2 separate regions of the Homo sapiens genome follow, and region 1 is linked to region 2. A link means that fine-mapping ties the variant in region 2 to the expression of a gene that starts in the linked region. Tissue or cell type: lung. Region 2 holds a variant in brackets; the other region holds the start of a gene. All regions are shown on one strand. Distances are from middle to middle.

What was found. PIP is the estimated chance that this variant, and not a neighbour inherited with it, causes the effect.
Region 1: it holds the start of COL6A5, and the variant in region 2 is fine-mapped to the expression of COL6A5 in lung (TOPMed, PIP above 0.99).

Annotation. Positions count from the first base shown.
Region 1 is chr3:130,342,218-130,349,261 of GRCh38, reverse strand. COL6A5 (collagen type VI alpha 5 chain) reads right to left here and starts at 3,590. Exons shown (of 41, transcript NM_001278298.2): 1 at 3,281-3,590.
Region 2 is chr3:130,426,521-130,433,564 of GRCh38, reverse strand. COL6A5 (collagen type VI alpha 5 chain) reads right to left here. Exons shown (of 41, transcript NM_001278298.2): 32 at 3,981-3,992; 33 at 1,616-2,100. Among named protein-coding and RNA genes, the nearest start is that of COL6A5, 84 kb to the right of the region's middle. The variant T/C (reference allele first, on the strand shown) is at 3,344.

The DNA.
Region 1 (7,044 bases), 84 kb after region 2:
CATTCTCTTCATGTTTCTTATTATTTTCCAAAATAATAATTAATTAACGAAGTGACTTATTTCATCTTGAGAGAGAACGTTTGAGGTGTCACCTGGGACAATCGAATAATGTGGAACGTTACATTGGCCTTTCAGAGACCAAGTCTTGAGTCACAGTATCATCCCAAAGAGTGGCTTGATGGATGAGAATTCAAATAGGGAGTATTAGAATATTGGGTAGGCAATTAGAAATCTGCAACATGAATACAGGACAAGAATGGTTCCTTGAACTTAAACAAATTCACAACAGAAAAACAAACAACCCCATCAAAAAGTGGGTGAAGGATATGAACAGACACTTCTCAAAAGAAGATATGTGGCCAAAAACATAAAAAAAAGCTCATCATCACTGGTCATTAGAGAAATGCAAATCAAAACCACAATGAGATACCATCTCACGCCAGTTAGAATGGCAATTGTTAAAAAGTCAGGAAACAACAGATGCTGGAGAGGATGTGGAGAAATAGGAACACTTTTACACTGTTGGTGGGAGTATAAATTAGTTCAACCATTGTGGAAGACAGTATGGCGATTCCTCAAGGATCTAGAACCAGAAATACCAATTGACTCAGCGATCTCATTACTGGGTACATATCCAAAGGATTATAAATCATTCTACTATAAAGATACATGCACACATGTTTATTGAAGCACTATTTACAAATAGCAAAGACTTGGAACCAACTCAAATGCCCATCAATGATAGACTGGATAAAGAAAATGTGGCACATATACACCATGGAATACTATGCAGCCATAAAAAAGAATGAGTTTATGTCCTTTGCAGGGACATGGATAAAGCTGGAATCCATCATCCTCAGCAAACTAACACAAGAACAGAAAACCAAACACCGCATGTTGTCACTCATAAGTGGGAGTTGAACAATGAGAACACCTGGACACAGGGAGGGGAACATCACACACCAGGGCCTGTCAGGGAGTTGGGGGAAAGGGAAGGGAGAGCATTAGGACAAATGCCTAATGCATGTGGGGCTTAAAACCTAGATGATGGGTTGATAGGTGCAGTAAACCACCATGGCACATGTATACCTATGTAACAAACCTGCATGTTCAGCACATGTATCTCAGAACTTAAAGTAAAATTAAAAATAAAAAAGAATGGTTCCTTGGAGAATGGCAAGTGGCAATGGTTGTGGGTAGTGAGTTGTGTGCATGTTAGGGAATAGGCCAGAGGAATTTAGGGAAGTATCATAAAGCACCAGGGATTGATGGGGCAACAAAAATGTTTGCAACTGCCACATGCACCACCAGTCAGCCCTTCCTCATAAAGTAGGCATGCATCTCGTTTTATCTTAGATCCCAACTTTGCCCAGTGCCCAACTCCTCTTCCTTTGCACTTTCCACTTGCTCAGTGTGTACTGGATCTGAGATCCTACAAGATTGACAGGGGCATCATCAAAGCAAACTGCAATACCAAGAAAAGTACACATTCCAAGTGAATTTGTGCCCTCCACTCTCAGAGCTGGAGGATTCTGAGTATATGCTCCGGGGTTGAAAATTCTTCCTTTTTGGAAGATGATTTGAACTTGAGGAAGGAAAATCACAACATGAAATACAATGCAAACAAGACATATGTGTCAGCCTTACACTTCATTATAGAAGGATGCTAAGCATATGCTCATTGAATACTTATGAACAATTTCTGCATGTAGCTATGATTCAAGATGGGAAATATTTACAGTGGCAAACTTTATTTTCACAGGCTCATAACATTGCTAGCAATGGCTCCCAATTTTACTGACATTTCCAAAGTTCTTTTCAAACAGAGAGGTGATTAGTTTTTGAAATCTGTGAAAAAGCCTTTTAGATGTTTTAACTTAATATATATATATAAAATAATTAAATATAAAATCATTGTATTGAATGTTTTCTATGCTTTAACATATTAATAATAGTTCAATATCATAACCACACAGGGTCCTCCGGGGAACTACTTTAAGATAATGCTAGCAGGTTCCCTATCAAAACCTTACATCCTGCACCCACCCATTGAAGAAAAGGGAAAACTGAGAAATATCTGCAAATAAATTTGCTCCAGAGTCTCCAAGTAAGTCAGCAGTGGATTTAGATTTCATATTTTAAGTTAAGCCACTGAAAGGAGAATAATAATAACAACACAAAACCATTCATTCGTCATCAAAGATTAATGGCTCAGGTTCTCAGCAGTGATGAAGAGCCTGCCTCATCTGAAGGAGTTATTTAAAAACTTGGGAATTATCTTCTCTACTTTAATTCATATGAAATCTCAGGATTCCTACTTATTCTATTGGTAAATTGTAGCACTGTAAACTTAAATAGAAAAAATGGAAAAAAATCTTGCAGTGTGAATTTTTTCTTAAGGATTTTTGTTCAGAATTCACAAAGTAAATATATATCTTCCAAGATACCTAACCTGACACCCTGAGTTAACAATGATTAATTTCAGAACAAGCAGTTGAATACCAAAAAACAAAATAAATGTGATGTATGAAGCACTACATCAACTTATGAAGATCCTGGTAAGAGAAATAACACGCTACCAGCTTGGGGATCCTGAGAGTACAAAATTCCCTCCAGCACTTTGAAAGAACCTTACCTGGAGACTTGCACACAGTACAAACTCAGAAATAGTTGTTGAAGCTCTGAGTGCTGTTCTTAGGAAATCTCAAAGATCACAGTTTCGTTTGGGACAGAATAGAATTCCCACAAACCAAGAGTGTTTAGAAGTTATTTTTATAACTGAATACACCCCAGTATCTAATGCCTTTGACTCATTACCTACACACCCATTGCTGTTTATTTGGGGGTTCCTGCATTGGGGCTAGGGGCTCAAATGTAGGACTAAGTGACTTCTAAGGCAATGGTTCTCAAACTTTAGCTGCATCAGAATCCCGTGGAGGATTGTTAAAATACACATTCCTTATCCCCATTCCCAGAGATTCTGGTTCAACAGGGTTTTGTGGGGTCCAGGAATTTGCATTTCTAACAAGTTTCAAGGGCAAGGCGATGCTATTAGTCCTTGCATCACACTTCGGATAGCACTGCTCTAAGGTCCTTTCGAATTCTGAGTCTACCTTTCAGAACCTGTCTTAACCATCTGTAAAATTCCTTAGAGCTCAGATTTGGGGGCGTCAACAGGTGCAAATCACCAGAAAGGAGAATCCTTCTCACATCCACCTGTCTACTCGAGGTTTCCTCCCCCGCCTGCCTCAGGCCCCAAGTCCCCGCACCGCATACTTACCCAGCTTTCCCGGGGTCAGGGGACACTCCGGACCCTGGAAACCGCCCCCAACTCTCCAGAAGAGGCTGCACCGAGCTCCTGAGCGCAGTAAACGCGCGCCTCTCGGGCGCCCGCGGCGCAGTTGGATAGAGCGCGCGCCGGAAGCCCTGGTCCGCGCCGCACGCCCTGGTCCGCGCCGCACAGCTGCAGGTGGATTCCCGCAGCGAACGCCTCGTGCCCTGAGAGGGTCTTTTAAGCCGGCGCTGACCCGTGCCCTTGGCCTGGCTCTTCCCTGGGGCTTTTAACTCTTCACAAGTTTTAATGTGAGTGTCCAGAGACGCTCCAGCTGTTTGCTGGCTTTGTTTCAGAGAAGCCGCCGGCTGCCAAATGAACTTAGGGAGTCAGAATTTCTCAGAAACCAAGGGCAATCTTTACTAGCAGCCGAGCTGCGGTCACTTCTACTACTTAGACAGAGGAATCGCCATTTGGCTCCAAGTCCCCCAATTTCTCAGAGGCAGCCTCCCAACGAAAATGCCCAAGGAGGAGCAAAGTCCTGGGGGAAGCCCTACAAGAGAAAAAGTAACGCACCCCTGATGCTAGAGGCAGCAGGAGTTTTATCCAGCAACTTCTAGAAAGGGCAGGATGGGGAAATGGAGCAGGCAACACAATGAAGTTGTGATTTTTAGTACATGGATCATAGTGAAGAACTTGGAAAGCATAGACTATTCTTACATGCATGGCTTATTTTTTGTTGGTTTGCATGGACGTGTACTCAGGTTGAGATTTTATATTACATATCTGTATAACACCTGCCAGTAAATGTACTCCTAGCTTGAGTGGTTAAGTTCAATCAATCCATTGCTTCAGCCTGCTAGCTTCTTCAGGCTGTCTGTGAAGAGATATGTTACAATTACTTACACTGATGAAAGTTTATTAAAATGTCAAGAGGAAACATAAGACATGGGAGCTCACCCTTGCTCAGCAAGAACCCGATTCTGAGATTGCTTCTGAAGTTAACTAGAAAGTTTCTAAATATGTGTTAGAAAGAGTGGGTTGGAAGAATGAAGAGAGGGAAGTGTAATGAGGACTTTCAGGATTTTCTCCTTTTATTATTAAATTTTTTTTTTTCAAAGAGAACACAAATATGTGTAAACCAAAAACTGTTTGTTTTTTTTGTTGTTTTTCATTAATAAGAAAAAACTGATGTAAGTTGAAAATGGTTTTTCTAAAAAAAAAGTGTATTTTATCTATTTTGAATTCACTTGGAATAGTCAGGGTTATGGGGTGTTCTGCACAGAACATCCTGAAATCCTGGATTTGAATGCCAAGACTTGCCCTTCGGTATCAGTGAGTCTCAGATTTGTCCAGGTTTTAACGGAAAATGTTCCATTGGTCACCAGAGTGAAGCACAGAGAGAATCTATGGGCTGGAATATCAAGAAGCTAGAGTCTGGGGGGACAAAATATACATCTATTTCACATTCATGCCTGGCCCAGGCCGAAATTTTGCTACTATGATGTCCACATACCCTCAGTGTGTAAAGATTTATTAATTGAGATGTTCTTCCCCAACCAAGAGTAATGCCCCAAGGGAGAAAGAAGGCCTACTTTATACTTCAGGAGAAGGGTGGGGTTTTGCCTTCACAATTAGGGTAATATCCAAATAGTACTGAAGCCAAAAGGAAGTTGTGGGTTTGTGTTTTGGGGGTTCTTTTGTTGTTTAGAAACTTCTCTAGAAAGTATTATTGTAGAAATTTTTTTACTTGCAATATATTTGTGATTTAACTTTCACAATCATGAAATAAAAGTGGCTCCAGGAATCTACAACTTTTCCACAGATTTTAACATTTCCTTTCCTTTCTTCTGCTTATAAAATTGAAACAAGGTTTTCCCAAAATAAATCATAATGTGAAATTTATTCACTATTTAGAATTGCATTTATTCTATTAAGGATATATTAACTTAATTTACTTCAGAAAGTAGAAGTTTGGAGTTTAATATCTGAAGGAATTCAGGCACTAAAAGTGCCAACTTTTCAATTTTCTAACAGAATAGAACACAATTGAACTTACTTTATCTGACTTGGGTTTCACTTTCCATTTTCTCTAGAAAATAAAAAGATATTGAATAAAAGAAAAGTAATCCAGAATTTCAAAAGTGTGGAAAAGACATTAAATTTTTTTTCAGGCTTCATCATTAGTTATATTTGCCTTTTATTAACCCAACCTTCATAATCTGTATTTCTGCAGCTGTTTTAAATAAGAAGATAACATCAGAGTAAAAGATAGCAAATTCTGCTCTACCCTGCACTCGTTGATTCCCACTGGGAAATATTGATGGTATGTCTGCAAATGTGAAAACCGTACTATCAGAAATAGGCAAGATGATTTTGGATGTGAGATGATTTAAATGGAATATGATTAACTTTCTCATTGATGCAATCAGAACTATTAAAAGATAAAATAGCATTTTTCTTACATGTGACTCAATGTCCTTTGGTCATGCCTATATACCAACAGATAAAAAGTTAACAATTAAAATGCATTATCGATAACTGAAGCCAAATACTTTCCTCTCTGTGTACTAAATAATATTGGAATATAGTATACTTTACTTTCTCTATGTTTAAGCCATGCCGAAAATAAGCAAAAATGACTTAGCTACTTGCTTTAAGAAATACTTGCTCCTAATGGACAAGGCTGTGACTAATCAAAGTGGCTTACTTATCTATATCAACCAGCTTGCTCTAGAAGACTTGTTTCAACTCCTTCATCTCCCCGTGTCCAACAATTTAAAGCTATCATGTCACGAACTCTGCCAAACCCAAAGAGTTTTCCGTCTTGCAAAACCCACCTGAAATTCACCCAGTCTAGGACCTAAACCCTATAAATATCCTCCCTGGGTTCCTTTCTGAGACACTACTAAGACTGTCAATGTTGTGTTTACCTTTACTGCAGTAAGTTGGATCAACAGGTTTTTCTGATAGTCTTCTGGAAAACACAACAGTTGGCAGCACACTGTAATCATGGCTTATTACTTCATGTTACAGTATCACAGTGGAAGGTGAAGCCAACAGTGTGTGGATGGTTGGGGGTCGTAGAGTCAATAAAGCCTTAATGAGAGGGTGACATGAGAGGTGGGTCTGAAAAAGTCCTAAGTTCAACTCTGCAAGACTGGGGAGCCAAGTCTCATGAGGAGAAACCCTCCACCTCCAACAGCAATTGGAACCAGAAAGCAATGTCTGTACTGGATATCCATCTGCTTTTTTTTTTGAATTCCTGAAATTACATTCCCTTCCCCCTCCTAGGAAACATTTATTCTATCTCTACAATCCAAAGACAAATGCTGTTTTGCCAGGGTCCCATCTCCCTAGCCACAGTTCTTTGGGGATGGCCCTTGACCCAAGTTTGACCAGTCAGCCCTAGGATCCCAGGTTCAAAAAAACTGGGTTTCCATTCCTCAGAAGATAAATGTGACCCTGAAGGTTGATGGAAACCACATTCCAGTCACTGTGAAAAAAGTCTATCTAAGGATTAGAGTTGACATGTGGAGAAGAGAGATGGAGAGCTTCAGGGGGTGTTAGAATCTCAAATTCTAGTTATCTTTAATACTTTGTCCTTCCCTCAAGGTGTGCTCATTGGTGAGGAAATAGCCCTCCTTGGCCTAACCTAATTAAGCTGTGTTTCATTCAATAAAATATAATTGCTATTCACCTAGTTAATCGTGGTTGTATTAGTGAAACCATATCTTACTCATTTTTGTATCTCAGAACCGTCTTGAAGTAAC
Region 2 (7,044 bases):
AAGGCAGGGAAGAATAAAGAATGACTAAAGGGAGCACTGCTCAAGGCGTGATATGCAGTCAGAATGACTGTGTGGGGTTATTATCTGGCAAGAGCAGAGTGATGAGAACCAGATAGCTTCCTGGGTCACCTTCTCTGTAGATATGATGCAAATTTAAAATGATTTGTTAACAAGAATGACTGGAGACTCTTTCTCATTGGGGATTCTGAGGGCTTTGGTGCAGTCCTATCTGAAGATAAGGATTAAATTTGATGTCTTATTAAGATTTCTTGTATTCTGGAATTTTATGCAACTCTCAAAGCTGAAAGTCACTTATTTTCCCCAGAGAGAAAAATTAAGGAGGCAGAAAAATTTCAAAAAGAAAAACTGAAAACCACAGGACTTTGACTTCCTGCAATCCTTTTTGTCAGGATCTGTTGTAACTCTCTGTGGCTCCTATTTCCAAAAAACGCTTGGATGTGTTAGGAACAGATTGATTCTCTCCATGTTATAGAGAGATTCTTTCTCTTTATATGGTAGAAATTGTACATTTTTTATAAAAATAGACCTTTATAATCTCTTGAAGGACATGATGGCTTTACACAGCTCCAGAAGAATGTATTTTATGGATAATCTGAATATACTGAAAAGTTGTTGAACAGATGAAGAGGTTTTTAAGTTTCTTAGGAGGAAGGGAAGGGGAGCACTGATCCCTTGAGAATCTGTGGATCCAAAAGTGACAGGACCTCTTTTGGGAAAAATGTTCATATACATCAAATGTTTTGCACCACCATAGGGGTTCAAAGATCCCCTGAACTTCTTCCATCACTGGTTAAGGCCAGCTGTTCTGTGAGCAACAGCAAGCAGATAACAAATTTGAGAAACACCAGAGCAGTAGAGGGCTGGCAGGGCAGCATGTTCATGGTCCTTTCTATCACATAGACCTAAGTTCGAATCTCAATTTAGCCACTTAGTAGTGGTATATAGTTAAGTCACTAGAAATCCTCTGGGCCTCAGTTTCCTTTTTTTTTTTTTTTTGACAGAGTCTTTCTCTGTTGCCAGGCTGGAGTGTAGTGGCGCCATTTCGGCTCACCACAACCTCCAACTCCCTGGTTCAAGTGAGCCTCCTGTCTCAGCCTCCTGAGTAGCTGGGATTACAGGCACGCGCCACCATGCAGCTAATTTTTGTATTTTTAGTAGAGATGAAGTTTCACCATGTTGGCCAGGATGGTCTCGATCTCCTGACCTCATGATTCGCCCGCCTTGGCCTCCCGAAGTTCTGGGATTACAGGCATGAGCCACCGCGCCCAGCCCCAGTTTCCTCATTTTTAACATGGAGACAACAGCTGCATTGACCTCCGAGGGCTGTGAGAATGTATGAATACATATGGAAAGCTCTAGGGACAGTGCCTGGCATACAGCACGAGCTGAGCAAATGTGGTTGCTGTTATCATTGACTGTTGTTATTATTCAGGATTGGATTTCACAGACATTGACAACAATATAGCTGTGAAAACTGTAAAGGAGTTTTCAAGAGGCCACATATATTTCTTGACTCTCTACCACTCCCATCCTGCCCTATCACAATACCTACCTCTATCTTAAAATTAAAGAAGTTGCCAAGAGAAATTCTTACCCCAAAAGCTTCAAGGAAAACTCTCTCATCAAAAGCAAAGACTGTTGGACTGATATCCAGGGCACTAAACTCCATGGTGGCCGTGATGATGGATGACCTACTGGCTGTTTGACCATTGCTAAAAAACACAGCAACTCTCCTCACGTTGGCTCCTGCATACGTCCGCTTGAACACGTTGCGGGTCACAAACCTCATTGCATTACCAACATCTCGGGGCTCTGTGGTGTCTTGATATTTTATTTGGGAAAGCTGCTGGAGGAGCTGCTTCTTCCTATTGTAGTCAGACCAGCGGATGAGATAGCTGGTGCCTGAGTTATAGGAAACCATGGCAACTCTTGCTCCCACAGGACAGTTATTTTCCCTGATGTTAAGGTCATTGACAATGGAAGTGATGATGTCCCGTGTTTTATTAAAGCTCTCTTCTGTGACATCGTAGGAATTGTCCAGAGCAAATACTAGCTCTGTTGGATATGCTGGACATTTTTCTAGAAAAAAGAAAAGCAGAAGTATTAAGTTATTTCACTGGATCAAAATCCTTTCCCCAACTCTTTACTCCAATGAAGTGGGTTCATACAGAGGCAAAGCAAGTGCTTCATCCAGCTCTAGAACTAAAGGTACCCATGTGCAAAGAAAGGAAAGAAATCTGGCCTGCAAACTTGAAGCTGTTAACATAAATGCAGAGCATGAATATTTGGCTATATAATGCTCAGACTTCACAGCCCACTATCAATCAGTCAGCTGTGTAAAATGAAATTGGTGGGAGTTCTTGAGCTGATGGAACTCTTCTGTGTCCTGACTGGGATAGTGGTTACATGAATCTACACATTTGGTAAAACTGAACACATACAAAGAGAAATAAATTTTACTGTGTGTAAAATTTAAAAATGAATAAAAATAAATTATAGCTTATTGGAGATCTTGAAAATCTGCTCTCCCCCAAAATCTTCTGAAATGATCTATTAATTATAAAGATAGATGTAAGATTTCCATCCACTTATGCAACAAATATTTGAGTACCTACCACATGAAATGCAGCATAACATTCACTGTGAAATGCATGCAAAGATGAATCAAGTGCAGCACTGCCTTCGAGGAACTTGTATTGGCAAGGATCATTATACTATAAGGTACAGAGTAAAGATTATTCTTAATGAGGATTCAGAGGATAAAGAGGCTGTTTCCAAAAAGGGGCTATCTCAGGGGCTTCAGGAAAGCTGGCTTTCAGTGAAGGCCAGGGTGGCAAGAGGAAGGAAGCAACGGGAACCAAGAAAAGTTTGCAATAAGCTCTTATAAAAATGGGACTATCTGCCATTCCTAGCTCAATACTCATGTCTTATGATGACTGAACTTTAGAATTTCATAGAAAATCTACCCTATGTATCAAACCTCACTTTTCAATGTCCTTGTTAAAGTCTGAACACAGGAAGAGAAAAATGATTTTTCTTTTAATAAGCACTTCCATCTGCTCAGGCTGTTCTCTATCCCCAATCTGGCTAACTCCCAAAGCATATTACACTCAAAATATCCCATATCCCAACCACTGTTCTTAGAAATAAAAATAGAGAAGTATTCATTTAGAGAAGTGTTTTGAATCAAAGAATTTTACCATGAAGAAATTTCAGTAATTTTAAAATATGAAAGCTGATAATAAACAATAGAATAAGAAAAATGAAAGATATATTTAATCCAAATCCATGAAGTTGTATTGAGCACTTACTCTTTGCAAGG[T/C]ATATTTTTGCAGAATTAAGGTGAATGGCTCCAAACTTGCACCGAGCTTAAAGACCCTGAGGGTCTACATCAGCAGGCCTCTAGGAGACCAGGAGGTTTTGAAATTGACATAGCCACTGGCTCCAATGGCCTTGCCACCCAAGGGCTCTAAGGTGCCATGCAGCCCCGACTACAGGTTAGGCCCTGGGAAGACCATCCACAGCCATGGGCAGGAAAGGTTTACAAGTAGTGGGCACTCAGTGAGATGACAGGTTTGAGTGTGGGCCAGAGGGAGGAAAGGGCACATCTCACACCCAAGAAGCCAGTGTCAAGGGCGTCAGCAGCAGACAGAGCAACAGAACGTGGATTAGTCAGAGAGCCATGTTTACTGAATCCCCCAGCAGCACAGGGCCAGCACTGGGGAGAAACTGACTTGTAAACTGTGATGGGTCCCAGGCTAGGGGCTGGGATTCAGTCACCATTTCATAAACAGGTCAATCATGACACTGACAATTACAGTCATAATCAAAAGAAAGAACTGTCTGCATAGAAGGAAGAAGTCCTGTTTCCCACGGAGTTGAGGGCATCTTTCAGATTGGTCTTGTTGGAATGCAGCAGTAATGATCTCAGCAGGGAACAGCATGGTAAGAATACTCACCTTTCCAGCAAGCTGTGAAAAGGAGAGAGGGAAAAGTTTGTTACCTTCTTGAAACAAGACTAAAAATAGTTCAAAAAACAACATTTTAACAAAGCTGAAAATGTTATTTGAGTCTAACTGCAAATGAGGCTAATTCCTAAGTGACAGGAAGCCAAGGTTAAAGTATTGAGGAAGATGTCAACAGAATTTTATTAATTTGTTAGCCTTCCTAACCTTTTCCATTTGTGAGCCACAGCCAGCAGACTTTAGCAGAATTTTGGTTGAAACTGAAACACTGATCACTTGTCTTAGAAGCAAAAACAGATGAGCCTCTGATTAAACAGCAAGATAGCTGAAATTCAATTTGTTTTGCCTCATCTTATAGCCTTCTGAGAGTCATTCAGCAATGCAAGGCTAAAATACGGGGTCTTATTTTCTTCCCTGATGAATATCTTGGGAGCCTTTATTTTCCCATACAACCATAGGGGGATTTCCAAGTGAATTTTGTCTTTGATAAAAAACAGCTCCTCTGTTTGAGTGATCTCCACATCCAGAGGGAGGAAGAAAAAACCCCAAGCGTTTCTCCTGAGCAAAACAGCATCTGGTTCCCTCAACTGAGAGGAATCCGGGAAAGTATTGATACATCTTTAAGAAACCACAGGCCTGACAATTTCCATGTTCATTTCACTCGATTCCTAGGAAGCAAATGAGTCACTCCAATATAATAAAAGATATTATTAATACTGGCAACGCACCAGCCTTCTGTCTTGCTGTCGTGCAACAGTGGTCCTCTGCCATCCACCCTTGTGAACACCTCTTGTTTGTCTTAACCCCATGGCCCCTGGGATGCTAACTGCCATCAGACAGCACACATAACCCACAGCCTCCTTTGCATCTGTAGGCTCAAAACAGACCCCTTTTTCCTGACTGAGTACTTCCACGTGTTAACTTCAAACATAGCTGCAAGGCTACAAGCACAGGTCGTAGAAGCAGAAACCCCGCTGGGTTTGAGTCTGGAAAAGCTGGGTGACTTAGGGGGAAATTACTTAAACTCTTTTGAACAATTTCTTTAAAGTTGATTTTTCCTAAAAATCTTTACTTATGTGTCTCCCTCCAAAATGCTAATCACTTGGGCCCTTCTGTTTTATTCTCAACCACCCCCTTTCTCTCTTAATTTCCCCCAGCCTTCTAGACACCTTCTTTTATTTTCCAAAGACAGTCTCAGCCTGGCCCTCATCCCTGTATGTCACAGAGCTGCTACTGGACTGAGGAGCAAATGATGTTAGATGAGAAGCCTTGGAAATGTCAGCTATTAAGTGAGGCCATTTAGATCAGCTCTAACGGCCTGTTGCCTGCATCTTAATCTCCAGTCTGCATCCTGGAGTTCCGTGTTATCCAATCAGTGCCCTGTGTGGTTATAGAACTTGCCTACTCTTCTCTGACCTCCTGATTTATGGGCTAATTCCTTTTATTCTATGTTGGAAAACTTCTCCCTTCAAATCCCAAACCCTCCAATGCTGGTCCTCACCTCCCCAGCCCCTTCCACCTACCTTTGGTCTTCTTTGGGAAGACATAATTTGATTTCACTGAGAAGACTGGCAACATGAGGAAAGTTGATCCCACATTCATTTCTCCTACAATGGTTCTTCCCTTTTTCTCTCCCTGTGGTCCCAGTCCCTAGTTCTCATCTCCTCGTGTGCTGAAGGGCCTTTCCCACTATCTCCTCCCTTTGAACCTCCTCTCCATTGCCTCCTTCCTCTTGCCTCCTTGCAAGCTGCCCACATTTGGCAGGACTCTCCCATCTCTGTAATGCCATTTTTCTGTACCTTGGCCCCACTCTTTTTGCCAAGAAACAGAAACTCCTTGAGATTCTGTTTCTGACTCTCTAATTTTACATTTGGAGAAACCTCATGCATCCATGTGTTTTGAAGGACCACCAGCACTGAATGACTTCAACATCTGAGTCTCCTTCCCTCACCTTTACTAAAGCCCCATTTCACTGGGGTCGATCGTTTCATGTAGGGTCTACACAAGATTCCTCTACCCCTAAAATATGTAAACTAATCATCTTCTCCAACCAATTGATTTCCCTTCACAATTCCTCCTCTGCTTACTCATCCTTGGTGACACTCAGCCTCTCCCCTGCTAGCCTGACGGTTATTCTAAACTTGCTTTTTTGCTGTTCTTTCCTTGCCACATACTTGCAATGACAACATTTTTATCTAGTCTCCTTCAGTAAAGTTTCTGATTTTCCCCTTTTACATTCTTCTGATTATGATTATTTAAAAACCACAATGGAAACATAATGAAGAAACACAGATCTCCTAAAATTCCACCTCCTTGAACACAGTAAATCATTGTTTTTCTACTTTTGCTTCTAGTACTTGTTTCTATGTATGTATTTACCTACCTGCAAAAATAATGAGGATTCAATTTCATTTTATAATATTTAATGCCTGTATTTTTCAAAGTTTGATTGTCTTCATAAAAACTATATTTGGTTAATATTTTCTCAGAAGATGATATATTATAACCTAATTATTCTATAAGTGTAAACAGTCTAAATGTATAATCATTTTGCTTTAGCAAATAATATTCCAACAATCATATATTTACCTATATTTTTTCTTTCTTTTGCTGTATTTCCTTGGGACAAATTTTCAGAAATTATATTACTGGGCTTTTCTACCTTATTTTTCCTTCTTTATAACCAAAGACAACCTCTTTATGTTGACTCCTGCTTTATTCCTTTTCTGAAACTATTTTTTGCCACCCCCATCACTTTCCCATAGCTGGATTCAGTTACCCCCATGCAAACATCCTTTATTAACTGAGTAACCGACTAGTCCCAAACCCCCATGATCATCCCTTTAACAACATGCCCTCCCAGTCCTTTCGCTCATAACTGTTATACTAATGTGAGTTAATTCACTCATCTTTTGGGTTTTTCTCTAATTTTCCTATATGCATGTTTTCTCTTGATGTCTGCATTGCCCCTCATGAGCGAAGGCACTTTTACTTATACCCCCTTTCCTCTCTCCTTTAATGTGCAATATTCTACAGTAGGCACTCCAGACAAGCTTGT